3 separate regions of the Homo sapiens genome follow, and regions 2 and 3 are each linked to region 1. The links come from fine-mapping of genetic effects on gene expression. A gene starts in region 1. Each other region holds a variant in brackets. All regions are shown on one strand. Distances are from middle to middle. Region 1 holds the start of UBE2Q2 (ubiquitin conjugating enzyme E2 Q2). Region 2 overlaps UBE2Q2 (ubiquitin conjugating enzyme E2 Q2). Region 3 has its middle 4.4 kb from the start of CIMAP1C.

What was found. PIP is the estimated chance that this variant, and not a neighbour inherited with it, causes the effect.
Region 2: its variant is fine-mapped to the expression of UBE2Q2 in blood mononuclear cells (TOPMed, PIP above 0.99). The same link has a PIP of 0.9 or more in whole blood.
Region 3: its variant is fine-mapped to the expression of UBE2Q2 in NK cells (Gilchrist 2021, PIP 0.95).

Annotation. Positions count from the first base shown.
Region 1 is chr15:75,839,466-75,847,720 of GRCh38, reverse strand. It overlaps UBE2Q2 (ubiquitin conjugating enzyme E2 Q2), which reads right to left and starts at 4,274. Exons shown (of 13, transcript NM_173469.4): 1 at 3,875-4,274. The coding sequence starts at 4,054. RefSeq lists silencers at 3,464-3,863, 4,114-4,193, 4,334-4,473, 4,514-4,693 and an enhancer at 3,295-4,192.
Region 2 is chr15:75,873,051-75,881,305 of GRCh38, reverse strand. UBE2Q2 (ubiquitin conjugating enzyme E2 Q2) reads right to left here. Exons shown (of 13, transcript NM_173469.4): 5 at 7,738-7,878; 6 at 5,035-5,119; 7 at 3,285-3,345; 8 at 2,118-2,208. Among named protein-coding and RNA genes, the nearest start is that of FBXO22, 27 kb to the left of the region's middle. The variant G/A (reference allele first, on the strand shown) is at 4,422.
Region 3 is chr15:75,715,503-75,723,757 of GRCh38, reverse strand. No RefSeq gene overlaps it. Among named protein-coding and RNA genes, the nearest start is that of CIMAP1C, 4.4 kb to the left of the region's middle. The variant T/AT (reference allele first, on the strand shown) is at 4,130.

The DNA.
Region 1 (8,255 bases):
GTTATGTTAAATACTTCAAAACGACTAAAGCCATATACTAGCTCCCAATAAGGCTGCTTAAAACAAGCTGCTTTGCATTTCGGTGTGATTGTAACAACTAATTAGACGGCAATCAGGTTAGTTTACTGAAGATGGAAAAACTATACTTAAGTTTGTATAACAGGCAATCTTTCATATCATGGCTTCACAGAAAAGAATAAAAAGGACTCGAGGTTGAAAAAGAGCACTCTTTTCCCTTCATTATTTAAGATCAGGACAAATTTATAAAACAGGAAAAGAATTAGCTCAATTCCCTTGGCCTACAGAGTAAAACATCTACTCTGTTTTGGTCTTTTTCACTTCTTACACTCTCATATGAAGTCAATTTACAGACTTCCATCAAGCCCTTAGAGACCTTTTTGTACTATCCATGACAAGTTATTGATGTTATCTCTGCACTTTTGACAAATTCTTAGCAGTTAACTTACAAGGCAGTTAAGATTTTTGTTCAAATACAATACAGCTAGAATAGCGCTATATACTCAAATATTTATGAAGCATTTATTGAGTGGAAGATAAAAAGCACAAAGCATAATTATAAAATATTCTCCCCTGCCACCATAAAAAGAAAAATTTAAAGGCTTACAGAATACAGCATAAGAAAACATGACCAAAGCAAAAATAGTAAGGACTAAAGAAGGGAGGAAGGGGAAATAACAGCATGAACTAAATATGACCCAGAAGAGCCTTGACGGATGGTCAGGCATATAAAGACAAATGGGGTAAGGTTAAGGGGTGGAGGTCAGGGGCACATTCTACAGGGAGAAATACAGCTGATACAGAAACCTGAAAGGAAAAGCCAGCAGAGCACCTGTACAGGACTCTTCAGGAACTAGCATGCACGTGTGTAAAAAACAACTTAGTTTCTCAAACATTAGAGAAACTGCATAAGGATGTTTCTTGGTAAGTATAAAGAAAACAAGTCCTAGCATGTAGAATTCAAATATTTGAACTGTCTAAAGAGGAAAAGTTAAAGAATAAGTCAAACTCATTACCTTTTCCAGAGTTACAACTTTAGAGAATAACAAATCATCGATCAAACCAAATCATTTGAAATCCAACCCCATTTTTCCCTTGATCTTTCCCTTCTAAGCAAATGGTATCGACATGAACAAGCCATGTCATTTTATCAAAACAGTCATCCATGTTTAAAAGAGTCTTTACGGCCAGGAACGGTGGCTCACTCCTGTAATCCCAGCACTTTGGGAGCTTGAGGTGGAGTTCAAGACCAGCCTGGCCAACATGGTGAAACCCCGTCTCTACTAAAAACACAAAAATTAGCCGGGTGTGGCGGCGGAAACCTGTAATCCCAGCTACTCGGGAGGCGGTGGCAGCAGAATTGCTTGAACCTGGGAGGCGGAGGTTGCAGTGGGCCCAGGTCACACCACTGCACTCCAGCTGGGACGACACAGCGAGACTCCGTCTCAAAAAATAATAATAAAAAATAAAAGAGTCTTTTACCTTCAAAAGATACAAGCAGAAATATTTACAGATGAAGTGATCTGTCTGGAATCTGCTTCAAAATAATCTAAAGTGGAGTACAGATGAAGATTAGCCAAAAGTTTATCATTGTTGAGGCTGGCTACATTACACTGTTCAACTTTTGTACATTTGATGATTTTCCATAATAAAAAGTTAGCAGACATTTGTACTGAGCAGCTGCCATGATAATTATCTCCTGATAGTCTGTCATATTTCACTAGCAAGTCAATTTTAATAGTTTCTACCTAGCGGTGGGTGCCATTACACTAGTCCTCACTAAATCCTCCTTGTACTGAAAGTGTCTCATTCACTTCTTGCTCCATTTCTGTTGCCACTGCCTAATCCAGGTCATCACTCCTTATTTTTATCTGCAGCAGACTCTTACCAGCCTTCAATATGGTTCTCGATGGGGCACCAGTGGCACTTTAGGTGGGATAATTCTTTGCTGTGGCAGACTGCCTGAACGTTGCAAAACATTTGGTATCCCTGTACTCCTAGCACTAAATGCCGGCACAGCAATAAGACCACCCCACCCCCACTGGGATAACCACATTTCCTAATGCCACCCACTGTAGAGAACCATTTCTAATCCTGGATGAAAGATACATTCTCCCAACTTACCTGAGTAAACTTAGTAGCTCCCCACAGCCTACAAATTCAGTCTCCTATCATTCAAACCAGCCCTACCTTTTCGTGGCCATGCCCCAACTTCTACCAGAGTAATCACCCTCGAAGCCATTCAGGCCCGTCTCCTTAAAACACCTGCTTCATGACAACTACTACACTTTCTGTTTTCCACTCTTGGAAAATCCTCCCCTTCTCCAGCCTGTATCGTGGGCTTCTCAAGTCTTAGCATAAATTTTCTACTTCTAAGGAAACCACACTTTCTCAAATCTCCGTGTCTTCTTTGGGTGGAGTTTCCTCAGTCTAAAATGCCCTTCCGCCAGCCTTCCAAAATTGTAGTCACCTGTGGAAGCTCATCTCTAACTGTCTCAGCCTCTCATCAAAGCCTTCCCTGAAGCGCACCTCCCCCAAGTCAAAATTAGTTGCTTTGGCTTTCCTGATGATACCACAGGAGCTGTCACCTTATTGAACTCTTCCCCCAAGAAGACTGAGTTCTGAGAGCGAGGACGACTTCACTCAATTCTGCAACACTAGTGCCCAGAACACTCAGACGTATTCATTCAATAAATGAATTATCTCCTCAGTACAGCACTTGTCTTTTTTTTTTTGAAATTAACACACCTTCTGCCCAGATAGTCTGGTAACCATTTTAAGGTCAATTATAACATCAAGGTTTTTGCAAACGCCAGCCACCCTGCAGGCACTTGAGTACCCACTGACTCAACCAAAGGGAGTTAAAAACAAGACTTGGTTTTAGCCATGTTTGAAAAGGAGCCCGAAGCCACCACCTTGACGCCTATTATAACCAAGAGAATATTCTGCAGTTTGGACCAATATCCTACATCAATTTCACGACGAATAGCTTCACGATACACTTTTATGGAGAAACTTAATACTTCAATTCCTTTACCAAGCCTTGGGTTTCTAATGAGATTTCCGCTTAATGAGTGAGTTTTTAAAAGTGTCTTTTCGGCTTTGTGACATACGTGATCTTTCCGGGGAGCAGCCCTGGCGCGTATCTCCTTTCACCTATCCATTTTCGAGGCTTACACACAAGGGAGGGGCCACACGAATACACACTCAACACCACCTGCCGCAACGACGGTACTATGCTCCTTTCCAGAACACAGCAGCGCGCAGCCAGGCCCGGGGGAGAGGGGTCGCTCAAACAGCACCAGAGTCTGCATTCCAACTTTTCCTCCGTCAACGAGTCCATTCTCATTGTCAGTTTCTCCTTAAACGCAAACTTAAAAACAATTGGCTGAACAAGCGGGAAGAAGGAAAATCCGACTGAAAAATGAGGCGTTAAAACTTAAGGGCCGTTCCCCTTGCCGGCCTGGGCTCAAACAACAGCCGGAGCTGCGCCGCCCCGCCCCGCCCCGCCCCGGTCCCGGGAGCAGGCCGGCTGAGGGCGGCCATGGACCCCACAAGGGCTTGGGCCGCCGCGGACTCCCCCCTCGGGGCTAGGAGACGGGGACCGAGATGGGCCAGAAGCCCCCAAGCCAGCCCCTGGCGAGAAGCCGGAAAGACGCGCCCTCCGCCTCCTCCCACCCAAGCCTCGCGCAGTCCCAGCCCGGCCTGGGATGGGCAAGTCGCGGGGGAAAGGGGCGGGCCTGCCCCGCCCGGGGAGCCGGAGCCTCTCCGGGGCAGGCTCCCCTTTGTCCCGGGACTCGAAGCGCCCCCTCTCCGTCCTCGCCCTGCCCCGCGGGGCCGCGGCCGGGCGCCTCACCGTGATGTTGCAGTGGAGCGTGAGTGGCGGCGGCAGCGAGTGCGGGCTGCCCTGCTGCGGCACCAGGAACTGGCAGTGCAGCTCGTCCAGCTTCCAACTGACGATGCGGAATCGCTCGTGGTTCTTGTCGAAGATGGACGCCAGGAACTTCAGCTCGGCCTTGAGCCCTGACACGGACATCTTCCCCTCATCTCCGGCGGGAGGGGCGCGGAAGGGGAGCCGGGCGCGGAAGGGGAGCCGGGCCCGGAGCCGCCGTCACGGCCGCGACCGCCCCGCGGGGCCGGCCTGGGCCGCGCTCTCGCGGCTCCGCCTCGTCGAGCGCTGCTGGAAAATGGCGAGGGGCGCGGAAGCCTCGGCGTGTGGCGGCCTGGGTGGCGCTTCCTTTGTAACCGACTCCAGCGGCAGGAGGCGGCGGCCCCGCGGCTTAAAAGGGCAACAGCGACGCCGCCCCCGCTACCGCCTGGGAAAGGGCTGCCCCCACCCCGCCCCCGTCCCCCTCACCCTGGCGCGCCCTGCGCGCTCCGGTTTCAGCGCGTGCACGAGGCCAGAGCGCGCGCGCCCGGCCGCCCCCTCCTCGCCTTGACCCAGCTCCCTTGTTCCCGACCCATCTGCTCCGTTCTTCGCACCCGCGGACTGGAGGCTCGGGGCCAGCTGGCGCCCGGGCCCCAGAAGTCGGGGAGGAGCCGGAGACCCCCGCGCGCCCCCGCCCCCGGCCTGGAGCCGGACACGTGCGTGGCGGATCGCGCCGGCCACGTCGGCGCCGCTGCAGACTAGCGCCAGCCCCTGGGGGCGGCTCCTCAGCTTGGCGCTCGGCGCGGCACCCGCTAACCTCACTGGGGGGACCTCGTGGGAGACGCGGGTGCGGCTCACCCAGCGTTACCTCCGCTACTTTCACCCTAGTCCGAGCCACCGCTTCGCTAGCCTGGGTTCCTGTGAGGACCTTCTCACCAGCCTGGGTTCCTGTGAGGACCTTCTCACCGGACTCGCTGCTCCCGCCTTTGCTCTCAAACCATCCATTTACCCAAGACGATGGTTTAGCCCCTGGAGGCTGTTGCCTGGAGGTGTCCCATGATTTCATCCCTTCCCTTAGCTACCACCTGTGTTCACTCTGCCGTATATAGTCTCTCTCTCCCCCCTTTCCTTATTTTGCCTTGTTTCCCAAGCTTAAGATAACCCTCCCCACCCACACCCCCATGGAGCTAGGGCTGCCCACTATTTTCACTAAACTCATAGCTCAAATATCATCTCCGGCACCCCCCACCACAACCCATTTCAAATAGTCACCCTGTGTCACATCGTCCTGTGCTAAGTTTTTGTTGGGCACCTGTCACTATCTGATCTTTAACCCATTTATTCCTTGTCTCTGCCCCGTGTTAATGTGTTCAGAGCTGTATCCCCAGGACCTAGAACAAGACCTGTTATATAGTAGAAACCCGATATGATTGAATTGAATGCTCGCTCTTATCTGGAATCCCCACCACTAGCACAATTCCTGGCACATTGTAGGTGCTCAAAAAATGAATAAAGGTCTGGATAGCAGTCCAAAGGAATACATCCCAATTTGGCAGACAATAGTGTGTGCAATCGTAAGTGCAAGAGGCAGGACCAGCTGCATATGCGTCCAACCTATGTAGTTGCACAGTGCTCCCAGCTTAGAAGGGCTTCGAGCTTGGTTTAATATTCTGGTGTCGCCATTTTGAAATTCGTAATTTTTCAGAAAGGGGCTCCGCATTTTCCTTTTCCAGTCTTACCTAGAGTTACCCAACCCTGACACCTGTCTCTTTCTTCCTAATCTACAAGAGATCCCTGGGCTACTGGTCCCCTTAGATGACAAAATACAGAACAACACAGGGACACATTAAGTCTACTGAAAGTTTTTATTTCCATCTACTTCTGAGATTTTGTATCATGTTATAGTCCTTAGCCTTTAAGAAGACAAATAAACTTTTCCAATTTACCTCAGTAAGTTAGTAGCTCCCCACAGCCTACAAATTCAGTCTCTTATCATTCAAACCAGCCCTAACTTTTCCTGGCCATGCCCCAACTTCTACCATCTTCTACCCCAACTTCTATCTAGCCTTTAAGAAGACTAAGATTCTCACAGACCCCTTTGAGAATCTAATAAAAGCTATGATCCATCTTCCCAGGAAAATACTTCTGCATCTAAAATTTTGTACTTATGGGGATTCATGACCCCAGCACTAGAGCTACCACACTATACACTGGGACTGGGAGAAGAAGGGGTTCCAGGCCTGGGTTCTGAGCCAGAAACAACTAGGCTACTGTATTAGCATTATTGCTGGGTTAAGCACAGAAGTGGCTTGCCACTTTATTTTTCCTTCAGTCCCCAGTTTCTTGGGACCCTAACAGGCATGGCATTCCCAGATAAGGATTTGAGACAAAGAGCAACAAACTCTTGAGAAGTTGGTATGACTTCGAGAAACAAAATTCCCTAAACAAGCTATTTAATCTGTCTAAGCTTTATTTTGTTACCTCTAGATTGCTGTGAGAAAATAGAGCTTTTTAAATTGCAAGTGTTTTTACTAGTTGTATCCCAGAAATATATACAAATATTAATTTCACAGTCGCTTTTTGAGCATCCATCTGCTGCATGCCAAGCTGTAAGAGGGCTAGAAAGATACATAGATACAGTCCCTGATTTTAAGAAGCTTAACATTTAGCATCAAAAACAAAATATTGTTTCCTGATGCTTTTGGCTGCAAATAATAGAAAACTGTGATTTAATCTGCCTTGGACAATAAGGAAATAAATTACTTCACATAATAGGAAGTCCAAAGACAGAACAGTCTCCAGGATTGGTTGACCTGAGCTTTCATGTCATCAAAAGTCCAAATTCTTTCCATCTCTTTTGTTGGGTTGAGAGCAAGGTGGCTGTAGCTGTTCTTGCAGTTCACATCCAGACATGAAAATATCCAGAGGCAGAAAGGACATTTTCTTCTATGTTTCCTTCTAACACATGGGAAGCTTTCCAAGAATCTTCCCAGCAGACTTCCCTTAGTGTGTCCTTGGCCAGAAGTGTGTCACATGCCCACCCCTAACCAATCACAGAGAAGTAGATGGGATTACTCTGGATTTCCAACCTGCTGGGATGGAATGGTTGCTGGGGAGTCACCATAGTCTTACACAGACAAGTAAAGACAACATCAGATCATATGTGATATGAGGTTCAAACTACTGAACTACATTTCAGGGGAGGAAGAAACTAATTCCATGAATTATTTGCATGAAAGTAGGGCCATATTCAGAGGATATTCAAGAGCCCATTTGATTGTAGAGTACAGCAAGGGGCCAAGAGAAAGATAAAGTTGAGATATTACTTTTGATCAGATTTTGAGCCCTGAAATACCATGCCACAGACTATAGTATAATAGTTTCATTTGGTGAGAGGCATCACTTTTTTTTTTTTTTCGAGATGGAGTCTCGCTCTGTCACCAGGCTGGAGTGCAGTGGCACAATCTCAGCTCACTGTAGCCTCTGCCTCCTGGGTTCAAGTGATTCTCCTGCCTCAGCTTCCCGAGTAGCTGGGACTACAGGCATGCACCACCGTGTCCAGCTAATTTTTGTATTTTCACTAGAGACAGCGTTTCACTATGTTAGCCAGGATGGTCTCGATCTCCTGACCTCATGATCTGCCCGCTTTGGCCTCCCAAAATTCTGGGATTACAGGCGTGAGCCACCGCGCCTGGACAAAAGTCATCACTTTTTTTTTCTTTTTTTTTTTTTTGAGATGGATTCTCGCTCTGTCGCCCAGGCTGGAGTGCAGTAGCACGATCTTGGCTCACTGCAAGCTCTGCCTCCCGGGTTCATGCCGTTCTCCTGCCTCAACCTCCCAAGTAGCTGGGACTACAGGTGCCCGCCACCACGCCCAGCTAATTTTTTGTATTTTTAGTAGAGACAGGGTTTCACTGGAGTAATCACTTTTAAGATTAATCTGGGCCAGGTACAGTGGCTCATACCTGTAATCCCAGCACTCTGGGAGGCTGAGGCAGACGGATTGCTTGAGTCCAGGAGTTCGAGACCAGCCTGGCCAACATGGCGAAAACCCATCTCTACTAAAAATACAAAAAATTAACAAGGCATGGTGGCACGTGCCTGTAGTCCAGCTACTCGGGGGGTGAGGTGGGAGAATCACCGGAGCCCAGGGGGTCGAGGCTGCAGTGAGTCAAGATTGCACCACTGCACTCCAACCTGGGCAACCAGAGTGAGACCCTGTTTCAAAACAAAACAAAAACAAAAAAAAAAACAAAAAAAGAAAGATTAATCTGGCATTCATATATAAAATGGATTATAGTGGGCTTAGAAGTATGCAGCCACCGAAAAGAAGCAAGAGACCTGGATTCTACATCTGGCCTGCCATTAA
Region 2 (8,255 bases), 34 kb before region 1:
ATACCTCTCAAAGAGGAAGTGACAAGGGAGGGGCACACAGGGGGCCACAGGGACGGATAAAAAAAAAAAAGGTTCTATTTCTTAAGTTTGGTGTTAGGCATAAGGACATATAATTCAATTTTTTAAAAAGAAAGATACCTTCCTTTTTTGTGTGTTTTGTTTTTTGTTTTTGGCCTGGGTGCTTTATTCGTTCCCCCATATGAATTAGTAAAAATGTAGCCATTAGCAACTTCAGTCAATATATACCAGACTCATATTTTAGGAAGACAACCCAGTTGACAACCACAACAGTTTCTATAATAACAAAAGTGAGAGATAATACTGACATTTGGGTCACTTCAAGAAAGTTCAATCATAAGATATATCCCCAAGCAAAAACACACACATAAAAAAGCTACGTAAGAAGCTTTTAGAAAATTACTACCTTTTTTGTAAGTACAAAGGAAGTATTGCTTTTTCCATCAAAATATCTCATATATCCACAGATTTTAAACCATTACATCTCATCCAGATCCATATTAAATCACGCCTGTAATCCCAGCACTTTGGAAGGCCAAGGGAAGTGTACCATGAGGTCAGGAGTTCAAAACCAGCCTGGCCAAGATGGTGAAACCCCATCTCTACTAAAAATACAAAAATTATGCGGACATAGTGGCACATGCCTATAATCCCAGCTACTCGGGGGGCTGGGGCAGAGAACTGCTTAAACCCGGGAGGCAGAGGTTGCAGTGAGCCAAGATTGTGCCACCACACGCCAGCCTGGGCCACTGCACTCCAGCCTGGGCAACAGAGCAAGATTCTGTCTCAAAAAAAAAAAAAAATCATTAACATTTTTTCTAGATTCCATTGCTATTCTTTAACCATTATTTTTAGCATCTTTAAAATACTTATTAGGCCAGGTGTGGTGGCTCACACCTATAATCCCAGCACTTTGGGAGGCCGAGGCAGGCAGATCACCTGAGGTTAGGAATTCAAGACCAACCTGGCAAACATGGTGAAACCCCGTCTCTACTAAAAATAAAAAAATTAGCCGGGCATGGTGACATGCACCTGTAATCCCAGCTACTCAGGAGGCTGAGGCAGGAGAATCACTTGAACCTAGGAGGCAGAGGTTGCAGTGAGCCAAAACTGTGCCACTGAACTCCAGCCTGGGCAACAGAGCAAGACTCTGTCTCAAAAAACAAACAAACAAACAAAAAAAAACCTTATTAAATATAACACATAAATTCAGAAAAGTACATAAAATATAGAGATATACCTTAAGAAGCTATTGTAAATTATGTGCTCATGTAACCATCAACCTGGCCCAGAAATATATTCCAGCCAGTATCCAAGAAGCCTGCGCAGATATACCTTTCAGTTCACACCTCCCTACCTCCCACCTAGATGGACTCCTTACCCTAACCTGTATGTAATCACCTCTTTGTTCTTGGACAGTTTTCCTCTTTGGGCAGTTTTACTGCTCACGTATGAATCCATAAATAAGTGTTTCTCAGTTTTCTTTTCATTTTTGCCCCCCTAAGAAGCCTTTTTAGAAGTTTTCTTCCTAGTTTTACCCCCCTGCTCCATGGAATTTTAACACCATAGATAAATCGTATATCTGTTTATGTTCTGTGGCCCTTTGGAGGGCAGCAGACCATTTTAATAGCTAAGATTGTTTTCACTCTAAAGATCAGTTTTCACTACACTGCAGGTGATATTGCCTCCACTAAGAATGCATGCCCTAATCAACATTAGTTTTACCTATTTTTGAACTGTATATAAAGGGAATTGTACAAAATAGGTTTTGGAGTCCAGTCTCTTTTACAACTGTGTTCAAGATCCACCCATCTTGTCCCACATAGCTGTAAACCACTTTATAAACACCACAATTCTCCATTTTATTGGAATGAACACTTGGGTTTTCTATTTGGTGCTATTATAAACGATGCTGCTCTGAACATTCCTGTGTCTCCTGGTACGCCTAAGTACTCACGTCTTAACGGAGAATATGTCTACGAGATTCCTGAACCATAGGGTATGAGTATCTTCTACTTTACCAAATTGTTTTCCAAAGCACTTGTACAAATATACGCACCCCACTGGAAGTATATGGGGTCCTGTAACTATTTTCTTACCTTAAAAGAGAAGTTAAGCAAAATATATTCTATGCCTTCTTTTTCTTTTAAGATCTGAAGATCACTGTGCAAAGGACTATCAGGGTCAACCCTAAGAATTACAAAACAAAAAACAGTTCAAATAAAAAGTTAGAGATTTTTTTTTTTAACTAAACTCAAAAATGAACTAGTATGACAGCTAAAATAGAGCACCTAGGGCAAGTTCCAGAAAGAGAAGGTCTAAAGCTGCTCTGTATCACCAGGAAAAATAGAGGTCACCATAGGTTCCAGCTCCTTGGGAATAAATGTCCAAAAGAGACCATAATACTCTAAATCTAATCTAGTAAAGGAGTTCAGAGTTTGCAGTCACTCTAAAGGAAAATAGTCACATGAATATAATTTTCTCAAGAACTCAAAAAAAGTTTAGGAAAGCATATTAAACTTACATTATTAGCCAAAGGGTTCAAGGAGAAAAGTTTGCCATGGTCAGAACTATGAAAACTTAAATCACTAAAAAAACCTGTATTTGTCTACAACTGTCCTATATATACAGGTCTAATTTGAATCCCACCTCCCCCCAACTTTTTTTTTTTTTTTTTTTTTTTTTTTAAGAGACCGGGTGCCTCATTCTGTTGCCCAGGCTGGAATATAGTGATACGATCGTGACTCACTGCAGCCTTGATGTCTGGAGTGCAAGATCTTCCTGCCTCAGCCTCCCACCACCCCCAGTAGCTGGGACTACAGGTGTACTCCACCATGCCTGGCTAATTTTTTTTTTTTTGTAGAGATGAAGTCTTGCTATGTTGCCCAGGCTGGTCTCAAACTCCTGGGCTCAAGAGATCCTCTCACCTCAGTCTCCCAAAGTGCTGTATATATTTCAAATATAAACTGGTTATCACAGTCTCATGAAGTTATTAAATACACTTTTGTTTTTAAGTTCCCCTGCTCTAACTCCATAAAACACTTTATCCCGCAGCTGGTCCCTCTTTCTGTCCTTCCTCTTTCTCACTTTCTTATTAGACCTCAGCAACAGCTCATTTAAACAATCTAAGAACTATTTCTATAGAAACAAAGTCTAAAGTTCTAAGTAAAAGCCATAGTATAAAGGTATCAAGTTAGAAGGAAAATAACCTCCACTGTGATAGTCTACCATTGCAAAGAGTGGGTGAGCATTAAAAAGCCACTTACTTCTGCAGTTTAACATGCCAGTCATATAAACTGTCATTTATGAGTTCCACTGAATAAATCCCTGTTAAGATATAGAGCATGTTAGCTACTCTTCATTTCATCATATAACTATTACTATGGTATAAATGTATACACTAAATAGCCAACGAAAGCTAGAAATTTTGCTCTTAAAACATGGAACAACTAAGCTATATAGTAAATATTACACTACTGCAGCTGAGTATCTTATGCCCTTAACAGATAATTACAGCCATCAACTGAGAAGATTCTTTAATGAGTTGAAAAACTGCTTACCGTTTAGTCTGACTGAAAAAAAGATTATGCAAAATCATATGTACTTAAGACTTTTCTTCCATGAACACACATTTCTACAAAGATGGAATCCTTCTACGTATGTTGTTTTATAATCTCTCTTCAACTTTCAGGGACATCTTTCCAAGTTAGTATACATAAACCTATTCACAATCTTTTTAATGACTCTGTGGTAGTTTATTTTATGGATATGCTTTAACAAATTCCACCCAGTATCTGTTTTTTTTTTTCTATATAAACAATGCTGAAACAAATGATTATTTAACATTTAAAAATAAAACCAGTATTCAAATGTTTGTACTTTATTAGGTTTCTACAGATAAACTTTTAGACTTCTTACACAAAAAACCGTAAGGACACCCACAATTCTAACAACTCAGAAACAAGTTTGGCTTATCCTGCACACTACAAAGCAAGGATTTTTTCCTTGTTTTTATTCTTTAAGCAAATTCTAATTAATTTTGATTTGCTCACGCTAAGAATTCCTGAATCGGTCATAATGCTAGAATTGAATCGGTCATAACCCTTTTTTTTTTTTTTTTTTTTTTTTGACAGAGTCTCACTCTTGCTGCCCAGGCTGGAGTGCGGTGGTGCAATCTTGGCTCACTACAGCCTCTGCCTCCTGGGTTCAGGTGATTCTCCTGCCTCAGACCACTGAGTAGCTCGGATCACCAGGCGTGCGCCACCACACCCGGCTAATTTTTTATTTTTAGTAGAGATGGGGCTTCGCTCGCCATGTTGGCCAGGCTGGTCTTGAACTCTTGACCTCAGGTGAGCTGACCACCTTGGCCTCCCAAAGTGCAGGGATTATAAGTGTGAGCCACC[G/A]CACCCAACCAATGCTATCTTTTCAAATTAAAGTTTGGCTCATTATTTAATACTATTAGAATCTCCATAACAATATGAGAATTTTACCTCTAGTTAGAGAGGTTCCATAACATTCAAGTCATATTGAGTAAGAATACTCGTCAAACAAGGAAATGAAAACTTTAAAAACTTATATATTTTAAAGGTAATAACATAACTATCTTTACAATAAAAGCTGATTATCTTGCTTTCAAAAATGGGGGGGAATCATAAAAATCAACTTGGCAATTATTCTCTGTAAAATGAAATGTTTTACTCTTATTTACTTTCCAAGCAATATCGCTCATGCTTTCCCCAGAAGATAAAAATCATGTAAGAGTTCACTGTTTATCAAGAAGAGGACAAAATTCCAATGGACCTATAAAAACATTTTTTAAAAATCCAAAAGACAAGTAAACTCATCCTATTTTACTCCTACATCTTTTGGAACTTGATTGCATTTGAGTTTCACATTCCTGAAATAAAGCTAGTAAACATTTCCATTTCTGTCCAGTTTTAAGAAATGACATTTATAATCTGACAATAGAAAAGAGCAGAAGAATCATAAAGAGAGCAGGGATCCAGAGATCCTTACCTGTTTTATAACTCTGTGATCTGTATATGTCCCTGAGCTCTTTCATAAGTCTATCTGAAGCTTGCACTGACCCAGACACTGCACCCTGAAACACAAAAGCCACTGTTTACCAGGGTCTGCTGAGCTAAGATTTAAGATATTTCAACCTGATCTAAAAGATTACAGCAAAAATGGATCACCACTCAACATTTTTTTTTTTTTTTTTTGGAGATGGAGTCTAGCCCTGTTACCCAGGCTGGAGTGCAGTGGCGCAATCTCAGTTCACTGCAACCTCCGCCTCCCTGCTCAAGAGATTCTCCTGCCTCAGCCTCCCAAGTAGCTGAGACTACAGGTGCGCACCACCACGCCCAGCTAAATTTTGTATTTTTTTTTTTGGTAGAGACGGGATTTCACCATGTTGGCCAGGATGGTCTCAATCTCTTGACCTCGTGGTCTGCCTGCCTCGGCCTCCCAAAGTGCTGGGATTACAGGCATGAGCCACTGTGCCCAACCTCAACATTTTAAGAAGTAAAAAAAAGCCCAATTAAATGAAGCATTATGAAGTTTCAAGAGGATATTAAAACTAGGCACAAGTCTAGTTCATTTCCTATTTCTTCTCATGTGAAAAAGTCTAGCCAACATGTCCAGACCACCATGGATTCCACAATAACAAAGAATTCAGTATGAGTCTATTCCAAACCCCAGCAATTTTTGAAAATACTAGAAGACACTCAAGGTGACACATTATTTACTAAAATAGAGTTCCATTCATAAGACTACAAACAAGAATATTACACAGATGGTCTAGTTCGCACATTAAGACACTGAGAAACATCTGCCTACATGCGACTGGTTTCAGTTTTTCAGTGCAGGGACATCTCTAAAGATGAAAACACATCAATATCTTATCATAAGACTAAATACAAACGGAACTATTTTTTGGTCACGTGAAATTAAAGATTTTAAACATTGCACTATACTTTGAAGGGGGGAAAAATCAAGTTTCCTAGCTCATTTCATATCTACAAAATATGAGAAGTTTTTCCTATCTCTAAAATATGAAGCATACCTATTTCACACGGTGGCTATGAAGACTAAATGTGAAGATATGTGAAGTATAAAGTACTTGGCATAGTATCCATCATGCAAAAGTGTTCAGTAACTTATAGTTGTTTTGACTATAACTCAAACTGGAATCGATCACAAGACATAAAGTACAGTCATCATTAATTCAAATGACAAACTTTGTTTTTTAAGTAATCAAGATATGGGGGCTTGACTAAATTTCTTTGCTCTACTAAAAATTATAAATTAGATTAATATATAAATTAGACTGAAGGAGGGAGAGTAATCTACCTGTTTTCAACATTTGGCATCTACTTACCTAACAATTCATTCCCTGTTTTGGGGAACCTGTGCCCAAGACAAAGTAACTGCTACTCAGATTTCACGGAGTTGGTCAATAGCTCTAACACAAGGCAAAAAGTAGTAAGTGTTCAGACAATCATTTGATGTTTCCCTACTCTGAGCATTTTATATATATACACACATCATTTTCATTTATTTTTGATAGCAATCATCCAAAAGGTATGTACTGTCTAGCCATATTTTAGAGCTGAGGAAAGTGAAACCATAAATTGTGTGTTTGTCACCAGACTCAGTGTTCTTTTCACATCCTGCTGCTTCACGTAAAAGAGATATTAAGTTGTGGCCGGACACAGTGGCTCACACCTGTAATCCCAGCACTTCGGGAGGCCAAGGCAGGTGGATCACTTGAAGTCGGGAGTTCAAGACCAGCCTGGCCAACATGGTGAAACCCTGTCTCTACTAAAAATACAAAAATTAGCCAGGTGTGGTGGTGTACACCTATAATCCCAGCTGCACAGGAGGGTGAGGCAGGAGAACTGCTTGAACCTGGGAGGTGGAAGCTGCAGTGAGCTGAGATCATGCCACCACACTCCAGCCCGGGAGACAGAGCGTAACTTCATCCAAAAAAAAAAAAAAAAGGATGTTAAGTCAAAAGAGAAAAATTACTTTTGGTTGGGTCAGAGCAGGACAGACCAAAGTCAGCTTCACGAAGGAGAAAGAACTTGAATTGTATTTTGTCGGAGAGGATGAATTTGAATATACAGATCCCATGAGAGGAAGGTAAGCAGAGAAAACAGCATAAACAGGCCGGGAAGGGGCAAATACAGGGATCAGCAGGTGGTTCCAGGATATGAAGAGCAGATGAACAGGGTAAAAAGTGGCTATCTATAGATAAGAAACGTAATCTACAGCAACAAAACATATGACTAAGGCTAGGCACGGTGGCTCATGCCTGTAATCCCAGTAGTTTCGGAGGCCAAGATGGGAGGATGACTTGAACTCAGGTGTTCAAGACCAGCCTGGGCAACAGAGAGTCCTCATCTCTACTAAAAATAAAAAAAACTAGCCTGGCATGGTGGCATGTGCCTATAGTCCAAGCTACTTGGGAGGCTGAGGCAGCAGGATTACTGGAGCCTGAGAGATCAAGGCTACTACACTGAACTATGATTGTGCCACTGCACTCTAGCCTAGGCGACAGAGCAAGACCCTGTTTTAAAACACACATGACTGAATCCACCACTAAGGCAGAAATGGAGGAAGAGGGCAGCTGAGATGGGCATGTTAATGAATTGCCTGGTATTAACTACAATTATTTAACCACAAAAGTCCAGGTTCTAGATATCTACACACACTTACATTTAAATGGTCTTGCCTTTGAGTCTTCCTAATTTTCTCTAATATTGCCAAATTTTCTTTTTCAATTCCTTCATCCTCTGACTTTTTCCCACTAATAGGCTCTTCTTCCTTCATCTCATAGTGATCTAAGTCTTCTATATCCTACAAAGAGACGAAAAATGTTAGCTTATTCAACCTATTTTTCTTCAGCAGTTTCTTATGCCAAAATAACATTAAATTATTCTTGACTCAAATGAGGAACAAGAAACAAAATGTAACTATCCTATAGGGAGAGAGAAAAAGCCCCCACATTCCATTCAAGAGGCTCCCACCTTTTATATCCTATATTTTATTTAAAATCTAGACTCTGGGTAAAGCAGATTTAAAAGCTTTACAAAATCATAACTATTACCAAATAAGCCATCTTCTAAATCTCCTATTAAGAGGAACCTTTAAAACAGTTTAGCAGCAGGTGTCAAGAACCTTAAGTGTTCCTAGTTTGTTCCAGAAACTCAACTTCTAGAATTGTATTCTAAGAA
Region 3 (8,255 bases), 120 kb after region 1:
CCCTAAGGTTGGGGAAAGGAATGGAAAGGGTTGGTGGGTCACGGGTGAAGGGTTTGTGCAGCACACACAGCCCCCTGGGGGCTCTCTACCCCCTGCCTCTCCCACCTACCTCCCAGGCTCTGGACATGCCCTCTCTTCTGTCAAGTCTATTTTTCCCCTGGCAAAATATCAAGTCAATTATCACTAAGGTGTGACTGTCTGATAGCTCCTCCCCAGAATCCTATCCCAGGGTGTGGTATCTTTAGAGATCCATGTCTAGCTCAATGGATACAAAAAGGAGTGGGAAGCAAATAAAGGAGGACAGAGGGGTGGTGCTGAGCCTTCAAGGGGCTGCTTCCTGTGCCTGTGACCAAGAGCACTCCCTTGGCAGGGGAGCAGTTGGAGTTGGAGGGCGGTATGAGAGGACACATAGAAGGGGAGGGAAGGCAGCCAGCCCCATCTGACGGATGGATGAGCCCCAGGCCTGAAAACATGCTGGGAACCTCTTCATTCCTAAGAACCCAGGAGGCTTTTGGGGGCCTGGGGCCTGTCACCTCCACTGTTCGTAACAGACTAGGGATTTGACCTGAACCGGGTCAGCGGTGTCCATCTCAGGAACCAGATGACTGCTGGCTTTAGACAGGGGTGTCTGTCACCACCCCAGTACACAGTTAAGAAAACTGAGGCCCGGAAAGGAACAAGGACTTGCCCAAAGTCTCCTACTACATCAAAATAGCAGAGATGGAACCAGGACACAAAACCCAGGGCTCTCCTTGGATCATAGTCTCTGATTGAATAGAAACCAAGCCATGCTCTGAACGCATTCCAGTCAGCAGGCACAGCGAGGGCTCAGAGCAGCAGGTAGGACAGGCATGCAGGGTGTCCAGAAGCCCCTGAGGGACCACAGGCCTCAGAACAGAGGACAGGGGCCCAGTCCCCCCAGCAGCAGACCCTGTGTGCCCCCATATGCCCATGGGGCAAGTAAACCTCTGATTTCTGGGTAAGGGAGGGCTGAGCCAGGCTGGGGGGTGACCCAGCCTCACTGGCCTCAGGCCAGGGCCAATGCTATGTCCTCAGCCCCATCCGCGTCAGCTTTTCCTGTAGGAAGCTGCGAGCCCTGATGGTATCCCAGTGCTGAGAGGGGCCGGATCTGGGGCTGGGACCCCCACCTTCCTGGTGAGCGGGCAGTCTCCAAGTATTTCAGGCCCGGGGAGCCTCCTGCCTTCCTCCCTCACTGCTTCTGCCCCATCATCCTGGTGCACAGCTCTTCAGGAAACTAGGCCACCCCGCACCCCAGCAGGTCACAAGCCACTCCAATTTGTTCCAAATGCTTCCTTTCCTCCAGCTCTGATGGAGACCCAGCTCACCCCTGGAGGTGGCCCTCGGCCCTGTCCAAAGCTGGCTGCTCCGACATTCACATCCCTCATGCCTCAGAGTCCACAGTGCCGTGGGTCTCTGGCTGCCTTGGTCCCCAGACTGTGCCCTCCCCATCAAATGCCCCATTCCTCTGGGGCACTGGCATCCAGGTGTGTCCCCCTTCAGCTCCTCAGGGCTGCCCTGGGTCCCTACTCATAAACCTAGCAGCCGTGGCTCGAGGCCACCTCCACCCCACCCCAACTCCTGCCATGACCCTGATAGCTCAGGCCTCCCCAGGGACCACCACCAATGCCCTGGCCTCCCCGTTCCCAGACCTCCTCATGTGCAAACACCTCCACTCCACTCCCTCACAGGCCGGTCCCCCACTGCAATCCTGGGCTTCTCACCACCTCCCACAGCACTGACAGCCAGTCTCTCTGGGAGGCCATCCCCTGCCCCCCATCTCTGAGACCCCAGTGCTGACCCTGCACTCCCTGCACTTCTGCGTCATCCTTCAGGCCCCTCCAGCTTTCACCACCCTCCTCATCCAGCCCCTTTCCTGGAACATCCCAGCACTGCGTCCCCCAGGTCTGCGTTGTCCATCTGCATCAGGCAGCTAAAGCTGTCAGGACAGTCTCATGGCCAGAACCTTGGACCTGCCCTCCTCGCCACCTGCCACCCACCCCCACCTCTGGGCAGCCTGCCCTCCCCCTCTCCCCCACCCCCAGGGATCATCCCCTGCATGGCTCACTCTCCTCTGTTCGCCTGGCCATCCTTCCGGCCCCCCCATCCACCTGCCCCATCAGGCTGGGCTCTGACGAGTACCCCCCATCACAGCCTCAGAACCGCCATGTCTTTTGTCATCGGCTCCCACGTCCCGCCTGGGACACTGTGGATTGCACCCCTCTCCTTGGACTTGCGCCTCTCATCTGGCTCCCTCCTGTCACACTCTAGATATCCTAAGTCCCCTCTATCTATTCAAACTGTCCCCCAAGCCCACATGCTTCTCCGTCACTGCCTGTCCCTCTCTGCCCAGCCCACAGACCACCTTCCCCACAGAGGTGTTTTCCAGTCATCTCCATTCTCACCTCCCTCTCACACTTGACTCAGCCTGAGTTGGCTCCAGGCCCACTGCTCCACCCGAAAGAGGCTTAACTCGACGCCCGCCACCTGCAGGTGGCAGCTGCTTCCAAGGGACACTCTTCATCCTCTAATGCAATAAATGCCAGCCCTGCCTCACTCATGCTGCCCCTCCTGCTGGCTCCAGGACGCCCTCCTTCTTTCCTTCTGTCTCTCGGCTGCCCCTGCACTGGCTTTCTTCCTGGCTTCCTTCCTTCCTCAACCTGACCTTTCAATGTTGGCGTATGCTTATTCATTGCAAAGGGGAAACAGTAACTTTATAGAAGAGAGGCCTGGCAGGCATCACCTCAACCAAGTGATACGAGTCAACATCCCAATGATTGCACAATAGATGTGTGCCTCTTGGTTTTGTTTGTTTGGTTTTTTTGTGGGGGATTTTTGGGGGAGACAGAGTCTTTTGCTCTGTCACCCAGGCTAGAGTGCAGTGGCGTGATCTCAGCTCACTATGACCTCTGCCTCCTGGGTTCAAGCAATTCTCCTGCCTCAGCCTCCTGAATAACTGGGATTAGGGGAGCCTGCTACCATGCCCAGCTAATTTTTGTATTTTTAGGAGAGGCAGGGTTTCACCATGTTGGCCAGGCTGGTCTCGAACTCCTGACCTCAAGTAATCTGCCCTCCTTGGCCTCCCAAAGCGCTGGGATTGCAGGTGTAAGCCACCACGCCCAGCCAGTTATGTGTCTTTTGATAGGCTGCGTGAGAAGGGCACGGCATCACTTCCTAGGCATTCCTGCCACAATACAGAACCTGAATTTAATCATGAGGAAAACAGACAAACTCAAACCAAAATTCACCTAAAAGAACTGGCCTGTACTTGTCAAAAATGGCAACATCATGGAAGACAATGAAACGCTGAAGAACCATGCAAGATGAATAGACACTCAGAAGAAAGCCGAGGTTTTCTTTTGTTATAAAGGATATTTTTGGGAAAATTGGCAAAGCTGGGGAGAAAAAAGTCTATGGCTTAGTTCAAAGTATTGTACCAATGTTAATTTCCTGGTTTTGATCATTGCACTCCAGTTATGAAAGAGAAGGTCCTGTTCTAGGAAATACTGCTTGAGCCCAGGAGATCGAGACCAGCCTGGACAACACAGTGGGACCCTGTCACTACCAAAAAAGAAAAAAAAAAATAGCCAGGCACGGTGGTGTGTGCCTGTAATCCCATCTACTCAAGCAGGAAGCTCCCTTGAGTCCAGAAGTTTGATGGTGTGGTGAGCTCTGATGGCACCACTGCAGTCCAGCCTGGGCAGCAGAGCGAGACCCTGTCTCATTTTAAAAAAAAAATTAAAAAAGAGGAAAAACTCACTGAAATATTTAGGAATAAAGGAGCATTATGTCTGCAACTTACTTTCAAATGGTTCAGAAAAATAGAGAGAGAGATGGCCGGGTGTGGTGGCTCATGCTTGTAATCCCAGCACTTTGGGAGGCCGAGGCGGGCAAATTACGAGGTCAGGAGATAGAGACCACCCTGGCTAACACAGTAAAACCCCATCTCTGCTAAAAATACAAAAAATTGGCCAGGTGCGGTGGCTCACGCCTGTAATCCCAGCACTTTGGGAGGCCAAGGCAGGCGGATCACAAGGTCAGGAGATCGAGACCATCCTGGCTAACAAGGTGAAACCCTGTCTCTACTAAAAATACAAAAAAAAAAAAAAAA[T/AT]TAGCCGGGCGTGGTGGCGGGCGCCTGTAGTCCCAGCTACTCGGGAGGCTGAGGCAAGAGAATGGCGTGAACCCAGGAGGCGGAGCTTGCAGTGAGCCAAGATGGGGCCACTGCACTGTACTCAAGCCTGGGCGACAGAGCAACACTCCATCTCCAAAAAAAAAAAAAAAAAAAAAAAAAAATACAAAAAATTAGCTGGGCTTGGTGGCACGTGCCTGTGGTCCCAGCTACTCGGGAAGCTGAGGCAGGAGAATCGCTTGAACCTGGGAGGCAGAGGTTGCAGTGAGCTGAGAATGCACCACTGTACTCCAGCCTGGAAACAGTGAGACTCCATCTAAAAAAAAAAAAAGAGAGAGAGAGAGAAAAGAATTTAAAATGTGGTAAACAATTAACATTTGGGAAATCTAGGTGGAGTATGTGGGAAACATTTGTAATCATCTTGCCACTTTTATCTAAGTCTGAAATTATGTCAAAATAAACATTTTAAGGAAGAGACGTTGGTGTCTCAGGGCTCAGTGCTGGGTCTTCCTCCCATTTTGCACCGCGCTCCTCTCTCCCGGGCAGCCTCATCTCCTCTGGTTGCTTTAATTCCCTTATCGATACCCCAGCAATCCGGAAGTAAAACTTCCCCTGACTAGACCTTCTTAGGAGCATTAGGCTCACATATACAGCCGCCTGCACAGTGTCACCTGGGTTTCTCACAAGCACCTTGAAATCAACATGCCCCAAGATTTCCTTATGAGATACCCCCCAGTCCCTGTCCATCTCAATCCATGACACCACCACCCACCCTTCTAAGTGCCCAAGCCAGAAACCTAGGCTTGTCCTGGACACCTCCCTTATCCCAACTCCCACATCCAACCAATTGCCAAGTCACTTTGGGGAGCCTGTCAGTTCCCCAAAACCAGGGTCCTGTTTATTCACCTGTGTCCCCAGCCCTCAGCATCAGCATAGTGCCTGACATATGATCTGTGCTTAAGAAATATTTGTTGAATGAATGAATTTGTTGATCAAGGAATGTCACTTCTTTTCATGGAAGCAGAGTCCTGCTTTCTGAGCCCCAGGCACGTGCCAGGTCTGACTCACTGGACTGCCATCTACGATGTGCTGGCTTCTATCAGTAATCTCTTGCTGCATAACAAATTACTTTCAAAATATAATTGCTTGAAACAGCAACTTCCTTCTGTTGCACACAGTTGCTGTGGGTCAGGAGTTTAAAAGTGACTTTGCTGGGTGGTTTTGGCTCCAGGTCTCTCAGGAGGTGGCAGTCAAGGTGTCAGTAGAGGTCAGGCACGGTGGCTCATGCCTGTAATCCCAGCACTTTGGGAGGCCAAGGCGGGTGGATCACTTGAGGTTAGTAGTTCAAGACCACCCTGACCAATATGGTGAAACCCCGTCTCTACTAAAAATACAAAAATTAGCTGGACATGGTGGTGCATGCCTGTAATCCCAGCTACTCGAGAGGGTGAGGCAGGAGAATCACTTGAATCCGGGAGGCAGAGGTTGCAGTGAACCAAGATCACACCACTGCACTCCAGCCTGGGCAACAAAGCTAGGTTCCATCTTAAAAAAAAAAAAAAAAAAAAAAAGTAGAGGTTGTATTAATCTTAAGATTTGATTAGGGTTGGCAGATCCACTTCCAAGATGGCTCATTCACATGAGTGGTGAGTTGATACTGGCTGCTGGCAAGAGGCTTCAGTTCCTCTCCACATTGGCACCTCCACAGTCTACTTAATTATCCTCAGATCATGGTGGCTGCAATCAGAAGAGAGCAAGGGAAAAGCTACCATATCTTTTCTGACCTCATCTTGGACGTCACTTCATCATTTCTGCAACACCCTATTGGCTGCATAAGGTGGCTGTATTCAACATGAGAGGGAGCTACCCAAGGGCATGAATGCCAGAAGGTGAGGCTCACTGAGGGCCATCTTGGAGCCTGGCTACCACTAGGCTTTTCACTGTGCAAGGACAAGAGCCAATGGGGCCAGTAGGGGCTGAACTCCAAGCTGGGTATTCTTGTATAGGGTGGTGTCCCCACTAAAGCTCCACACAGGCTAACAGCAGCCCCGCCAGCTTGCTCCAGCTGTCTCTTGGTTGTCAGTCTTGCCTCTCCTCCAAGGGACTCGGGGGAGTCACAGACAGCAGGACCCTGGCATAAAAATCATCATAACCACCAGGCACTTCAGAGTTTATAAAGCTCCGGCGCTTCTGTTGGAGGCCATCATCCAAGCACCTCGGTGGCTGTACATTTTACGGATGAGGAAAGGGGTACAGAAAGGCGAAGTGACTTGTCTGGGGCCACATAAAAAAAGGCTTGGCAGGACCGGGCTCCTGGCTCCTGACCCCACATTCTTTCCACTGCCCTGCCCAGTGGCCAGCTCAGACCCACATCCCCTGACATCTACTGCAAGCCTCATTCCCAGCCCTAAGCAGGTATTTCTCACCCTCCTTCTGGGAGCCCCAACCCAGCCCTCAAGCAAATATACTCACAAATTTTTCATCCAGGTGGGGACTGTCCACTCTACTTCCAAGAGGCTCTGTCTGCAGGCAGCCGGCTGTCCACTGGGGCCGCACAGCAAGGGTTAACAGCAGGAACTAATATTTAGAAACAGCACTACCCCAGAGGAGTCAGCTGTGGCCAGCTGGTCACAGCCACTGAAGCCACCAGCCTTTGTGAGTGTGATATGGAAGACGAGTGCCTGCTCCTGGAAAGCAAAGGCTCCAAGAGGGTCCTTCACCACCCCCGGCCCTTGTCCTCCCAGCACGGCTTGTGTGTGGCTCAGAGGCCAGGGCAAAGCCCTCCACTGGCCTCCCTTCCACAGCTGGCTCCTGAGAGTGGCAAACATAACTTTTCAGCTCCCGAACTGTGTAATTGTTGGGACTGGCTGCTCCCTCCCATCCTGAGCCTGGCTGCCTGTACTTGGAGGAGCCCTGTGTGTGCCTCTGCCAGAAGCAGGATCAGGACCACTCCTAACAGAGGCCCCAGGTCAAAGGCCCAGGCCCAGGGCCCGCTGCCATGGAGCTCTTGGCCAGAAAACTGCAGGGCCACTGAGCCAGCGCCTAAAGCCCGTGCCCTCTTGCACAGTAGTGGCCTAGGTTCTGTGACCTTCATGGCAGAGGGCCAATTCCCTGAGGGCGGGCCCTGGGCAGCAGGAGCACACCCCTGCTTAGGCACCACCCCATCTAGGGCACAGGCACACACCATTTCCCAGCAAGCTGGCTTTGGCCACAGGCTTCTTGGGTGGGGCCCAGGCAACGAGGGTGCAAAACACCCTGGCCAAGGGTGGGGCCAAACCACAGCCACTGCCCAGAGCGGGGACTCTTAGTCCAAGAAGCACTAGAGGTAGGAGTGACCAGCAGTGCTTGGCCAGCATGGTTGGGTGAACTCTGCTGGCAGGGAGGTGAGTATTACTGGGCCCTCTGTTGTCTTGTTCTCCAAGAACAATTGGAGAAATGGAGGCAGCACATACCACAGGTCACTGTAGCTTCAGAGAAGTTTGAATCTTCTTTTGCCCCTGGGTGGGAACATCCTTCTTCCTTCTTATAAGTGTGTTCTAAGCCTCCTTCTTTCCTCCTCCCTCCCACCCTGTGCTCTGTCCCATGCTTGGCTGGGGAGGCATGGACGCACACCTCCTGACCCAGCTAAGCAGGCCCCAGGTGAAACTAGGAGAGCTACGGAGATCAGGATTCCAGGGAATCTTTTGAAAGAGAAGTCGACGAGCACGAAGGAGGGCTAGGAGGGCTTGCTGGAGGAAGGTGAGATGTGGCCAGGGAGGTAGGGGCAGTCAGGGATGGCCACCAAGGATGCCTGGCCAAGCAAAGTCATGGGAAAGGTTGGAGGGCAGAAGGAAGAAGGCCCGAGCCAGACCTGAGGATGCCAGAGAGGCCCAGGTCAGCTCTGTTCAGCACTGAGGCTTCAGGGCCTTGGGTGAGCTTGCTGAGGAGCTGGAGAGGGGACAGTTGAGGAGCAGGCACAGCTGGTCCAGCAGCCTTTGTTCCAAGACAGTGGGAGGTGGTCAGGGGTCAGTTCCAAAGGCACACAGGGACCTCGACTTTCTGCCAGTCTGCCTGGCATGATGCTGCTCAGCATTGGTCCGGAGTTCCAGCCCTAGGTTACGGCTGAGCA